Linked DNA regions of Homo sapiens: region 1 is linked to region 2. Evidence: fine-mapped expression QTL. A gene starts in region 2. The other region holds a variant in brackets. All regions are shown on one strand. Distances are from middle to middle. Region 1 has its middle 7.9 kb from the start of C8orf33. Region 2 holds the start of ZNF252P-AS1 (ZNF252P antisense RNA 1).

The links. PIP is the estimated chance that this variant, and not a neighbour inherited with it, causes the effect.
Region 1: its variant is fine-mapped to the expression of ZNF252P-AS1 in whole blood (TOPMed, PIP above 0.99).

The regions. Positions count from the first base shown.
Region 1 is chr8:145,043,114-145,046,022 of GRCh38, forward strand. No RefSeq gene overlaps it. Among named protein-coding and RNA genes, the nearest start is that of C8orf33, 7.9 kb to the right of the region's middle. The variant C/G (reference allele first, on the strand shown) is at 1,405.
Region 2 is chr8:145,001,429-145,004,337 of GRCh38, forward strand. It overlaps ZNF252P-AS1 (ZNF252P antisense RNA 1), which reads left to right and starts at 1,383. Exons shown (of 1, transcript NR_026974.1): 1 at 1,383-2,909. It also overlaps the pseudogene ZNF252P. RefSeq lists enhancers at 1,776-2,352, 2,096-2,225.

The sequences.
Region 1 (2,909 bases), 42 kb after region 2:
AGGCAGTTGCTTGAGCCCAGGAGTTCCAGAGCAGCCTGGGCAACAAAATTAGCCAAGTATATTGGCACATGCCTGTAGTCCCAGCTACTCAGGAGGCTGAGGCAGGAGGATCACTTGAGCCTGGGAGGTGGAGATTGCAGTGAGTCATGATCGTGCCACTGCTCTCCAGCCTGGGCAACAGAGTGGGACTCTGTCTCAAACAACAAACAAAAAACTCCACTTTGCTATCATTCATTTCACTACAATCACCAAATACATTGCTATTATTAATTCAAACAAACTGTTATCCATTAGATAATTGAGAATAAGAAAACTAAAATATTTTATTTACCTTTATTGATTTTGCCTCTAATGCTCTTCCTTTCTTTATGTAGATACTAGTTTCTGATTTATCATTTCCCCCTCTCTGAAGAAGTTATTTTAATAGTTCTTGCAAGGTTAGATCTACGGGCAATAAATTCCCTCAATTTTTGTCTGAGAGAGTTTTTATTTCTCCTTCATTTTTGAAAGATAATGCCACTTTATACAGAATCGGGGCTGGTGTTACTTTTAACATTTTTTGGAAGATAAAACTGATATAATGCTTACCCTTGCTTAGTTTTTTTCTTTCTTGCCTTTTTTTTTGAATGGAGTTTTTCTCTTGTTGGCCAGGCTGGAGTGCAATGGTGCAGTCTCGGGTCACTGCAACCTCTGCCTCCCAGGCTCAAGCAATTCTCCTGCCTCAGGCCTCCCAAGTAGCTGGGAATACAGGCATGCATCACGACACCCGGCTAATTTTTGTATTTTTAGTAGAGACGGGTTTTCACCATGTTGGTCAGGCTGGTCTGGAACTCCTGACCTCAGGTGATCCACCCGCCTTGGCATCCCAAAGCACTGGGATTGCGGGCATGAGCAACCGTGTCTGGCCCTCCGGCTTCTTTGAAGATTTTTTTTGTTCTTCATTTTCTGCAGTTTGAATATGGTATGTTTGTGTATAGAATTTTGGTATTTATCTTGCTGGTGTTGTCTGTACTTTCTGGAACTGTGGTTTGGTGCATGTTATTAATTTTGCAAAATTTTATTACAATTGGCTCAAATATTTCTTCTGTTCCTTTCCTTCATTCTTCTTCTGGTATTCCCAATATGCATATGTTACACCTTTTGCAGTTGTCCCACAGTTCTTGGATGTTCTGTTTCATCCTTTTTATTCTTTTTTTCTCTTAGCATTTCTATTTTGAAAGTTTCTACTGACATGTCTTCAGGATCATTGATTCTTTCTTCAGTTGTGTCCAGTCCTTTTGTTGTTGTTGTTTTGAGATGGAGTCTTGTTCTGTTGCCCAGGCTGGCTCACTGTAACCTCTGCCTCCTGGGTTCAAATGATTCTCCTACCTCAGACTCCCGAGTAGCTGGGACTACAGGTGTGTG[C/G]CACCATGCCCGGCTAATTTTTGAATTTTTAGTAGAGATGGTGTTTCACCATTTTGGCCAGACTGGTCTCAAACTCCTGACCTCAAGTGATCCACCCACCTTGGTTTCCCAAAGTGCTGGGATTACAGGTGGCAGTCTTTATTTCTGTCATGATGTTTTTGATTTCTAGCATTTTCTTTTGATTCTTTCTTAGTGTTTCCATTTCTCTGCTTATATTACCTATCTGTTCTTGCATATTGTTCTCACTTTCCATTAAAACCCTTTGCATATTAATCATAGTCTTAAAAATTCAAGGTCTGATATTTCCAACATCTCTGCCATAAGCTCAGTTTGGTTCTTATGCTTGCTTTTTCTTTTCAAATTCTATATTTTTTGTGTGTCTAGAACGTGTGGTAACATTTTATTGAAAGTGAGATACGATGCACTGGTTAAAAGGAACTGATAGTTAGGCCTTTAGTGTGAGGTTTTTATCTGGCCCGCGGTTAGGCTGCGTTTTCTGTTTGCTGCAGCTGTCAGTATCAGAGGCTAAAATGTCTCCAGCGTCCTTGTTTTGGTCTCCCTTGTTGCCTTTGGGTTATCCTAGAGACTTCTTGAAGTTTGAGACACACAGTTCTTTCAGTTATATTCTCCCCTAACTATTCAGGATCTCTAGTGCTGGGGTAAGATATGAAGGGAGGGGAAACATCACATAATCTTATGAGTATGTCTCAGTCTTTCAGTGAAATTGTGACCCTCACAAGTGCTTCTGAGTTTTGTATTGGTTTATCCCCCTTAGATGAGACAGAAAGGCTAGAGCAGGTTGGAGTTGGGTATTTCCCTTTCCCCAGGTCAGTTTGTCTCTGGTAAAACCTCAGCAGGTTAGGCTCTGGTAAAATAGTTTCTCCTGAGGTTGGGCTTTATGAAGAACCATACGCTCTGGGCATATTTCAGAATGGCTAATTTCCCCCTCCCACTGCTGGAAGCATGAAGGGATTTTTTTTCTTAGATCTTCACTGTGAGAACCTGTTATGGCTTCAGGAGGTAAAGCTCATGAAAGTGTGTGGGTTCCGTTAAAACTGGGCCATACTGGCATTTTTACTGTCAGTGTGCGTGAGCACTCAGCAGGCACTAGGCTCAGTGACGGGGTCAGTTCTGTGCCTTAGCTTCCTCCTGTGTGTTCTTTCCCTAAGCAGTCCCATGGGGCTGAGACACAGCATCCATAACCCTGATGAAGTGTCATCATTGACCATCTACAAACACTGGGCCCTGAATGGAGCTTAGTTAAACTGCCTTCATCTACTACCTAGCTGTACCAGGGACCACTATTTAAGAGACATGAAAAGAAATCCAGAATCCCCAAGTGTCTGTATTGCCTGGGGGTGATCATGGACTGTTATTGACCTCTTGGTGTTTGGAAGGCTGCTTTTAGATACTCCTGAATCTGTTTGCCACATAACTACATGTATTACATATTTCATTTGATTACTTTCTTAGTTATGGTTTTCTTTTCTTCTTTTTGGAGATGG
Region 2 (2,909 bases):
TATACTGAAAACTGTCAGTACACAGATGACATCTAAAACCACAAATCTGGTTTTATTTTAGCAGTGATATGTGTCACTCCCACAAAAGCCTTCCCAATTGGCCTCAGCATACACAACAAGTCACCTCCCCACAGCCCTCTACACATAAACAAATTCCTTAGTTTAGTTCAGGAGGAAATGCGCCCTTTTCCTTCCGCTCTAGGTGACCGCAAGGCCCAGTTCTCGTCACCAAGATGTTAAGGGAAGTTTGCCAAGAGGCATCTGAAAGGAAATAAGGGGAATGGAGTGACCACAAAGGAAAGCCAAGAGAACGTTGGAGACACGTTCTAGAGCCCTGGCATTTCACAACAAACTCTGGAACAAACCCTGTCTCATCATCATTTAAGCCTTCGTTGGACAGACTTTCTGACTGGCAGCTGAACATAAGCTCATTGATGTCTTCACAGTCTCCAGCTGAGGCACACCTTGGCCAGAGGGAATCTTCCAGTCCTCAGACAGGGCTTGCCTTTGACTGGCCCCTGCTGCTTATGCCCTTTGTGAATCACAAGCGGTACCTCTTAGTGTACTCTGCCTTCACTCCTAAACGCATGTGGCAGGCATGTAATGCTGCTATTAGGCGCATGGGCTCTGGACTCGAATAGGACTGAGTTCTAACCTTGGATCCACCACTTACTCATGCAGAGGTCTCAGGTAAGTGACTTGAGTTTTTCCACAGACCATAAAATGAGATTGACACTACTCCTTAAGTGACTATATTGCGTTAAATGAGAATATGTATAAAATGCTCAGCACAGTATTAGCAAACCGCAAACAATACTAAGTCTCAATTGTCCTAATCAGTAAGTCAGCATTTACCGAGTGCCTACTAAATGAATGAGTGTTGAGCTTGTTCCAGCGCATCTGTGAGATATCACCTCCTGCCTATTCCTTTCCTTCCCCAAAACAGAAGCTCCTTCACACCACAGCTCTCACAGCTTTACCCTTTCAATCAATACATTCCTGCTAAATGAAATGCACTTTTCTCTCTTCTGAAAAAAAAAAAGCACAATTCAGCTCATCCCCTGACATTGCCCAAACTCCCTTCCTCTGCGAGATCTTTTTACCCATCTGGCTTCCCTGCCTCAGTGTTGCTCGGGAGCGTGGATGACAGCCCGTAGACCTGCACGCCCCGCTGCCTCCGCTCGTGCCTCACGCCACCCTCGCCCTGCCCGCGCCTCGGCCAACACAAAGCGGGCGCTCAGCACCCCGCAGCCGCCCTCGACGCGTCCTCTACGGGTCACTGAGGCCGCGGGGCCCGACCTGCGGCCTCTCAGAACCACGGCACCGCCCCTGCCCGCCCCAGCGCCACTCCGGCACCTCCGCACCAGGCGCCCTAGCTCGGGACTCACTCGGCTCGACCACGGGAAGGGAAGGAGCGCGAACGCTAAATCCCGTGCCGCGGGGAGCCAAGCCCCCTGGGCCGGAAATGCCTAATCTGAACTTCCGCCCTGCCCTTCAGCTCACCAACCAATTGAATTCCAGGTTTCGTGGGTCCGCTCTAGGCGGCTGATAGTACTCAATGCTCCGGCAGTCCTGCTCCTTCCCGGTTACGTCCCTTCCAGCCCTTGGCGGAGTCTGCGGGCGAGAGGGCGCAGGTGCAGAGGTGCCGCCGGCGGCGTGCGGCTGCGAAGGAAGGGACCCCGACACCGAGCGTTCCTGCGGACGCTCCTCAACCGGGGGTTGTTCTCCGTGCTCTGGACCCGGCCCTTCCTCACCTAGGACGTCTCGCGGTGCACTGTCCCCCTCTCTCGGGCGACTTTTCCCCCACCTCCAAGTAGTGATCAAGCTCAGAATCCAGCTCGCGCCCGCTGTGCACCTAGCACTTCCCACCTGTAGTCTTTTGACCTCATCGCCCCCTCTAGAAGGCTGCTGCCATCGCTTAAATGAGGAAGCCGAGGTGCAGAGAGGTTTCAGACCTATTGCGGTGGAGCTGGAGTTCGAGAACCAACCACTCGGTGCTGAGACGCGCTTGCGGAACGGGCGGCGGGCGGGGGTGAAGCGGAGTGAGGGGAGAGGCCAGGTGCGACCCGGGCAGGTGAGGAGCACGGGCCCGGAGGGAGGACTTACGAGAATGGAAAGGAAAGCAGCCCGTCTTCAGTGGGACAGTGGGAGCATTAAGATGTCAGAGAATGAGCAGTTGTGGGAAGAGCCATAGGGTATTTTATTTTTTAGAGATGGGGTTTTGCTCTGTCGCCCAGGCTGCAACCTCGACCTCCCGGGCTCAAGCGATCCTCCTGCCTCAGCCTCCCGAGTAACTGGGACTACAAGCAACGCGCCACCACACTAAATCTTTAATTTTTTGGGGGGTGGTTGAAGGTGGGGGCGGGACAGGGTCTCTCTCCGTCTCCCAGGCCAGAGTGCAGTGGCGCAATTACGGCCCGACTCCTGGGCTCAAGCGATCCTCCCACCTCAGCCTCCGGAGTAGCTGGGACCACAGGCGCCCACCACCACGCCCAGCTAGTTTTTGTATTTTTTTGTAGAGGTGGTGTTTTGCCATGTTTCCCAGGCTGGTCTTGAACTCCTGAGCGCAAGTGATCCACCCGTCTCAGCCTTCCAAAGTGCTGGGATTACAGGTGTCAGCCACCACGCCCGGCCCTAAATATTTTTTTAAAAGTTGGATTTTTCATGGTGCCCAAGGGAAGAGACACTCCTTTCCTTTTACTAAGACCATTTCTTTTAGAAAACTTTGTAATAGGAAAATCTTTCTTTGCCCTCTTGAAATGTATGTAAATTTTTTAAAAAGCTGCATAAGCCTCTTGCCAGTTTTATAAACCAGGAATTTCTTTCTTAAGGACCTTTCTTAAGGACCTTGGAGTGATTTCTTTGAAATAAAAAGGCCAAGGAAGATAGCTTCCCTCCTTGTCTCTGTG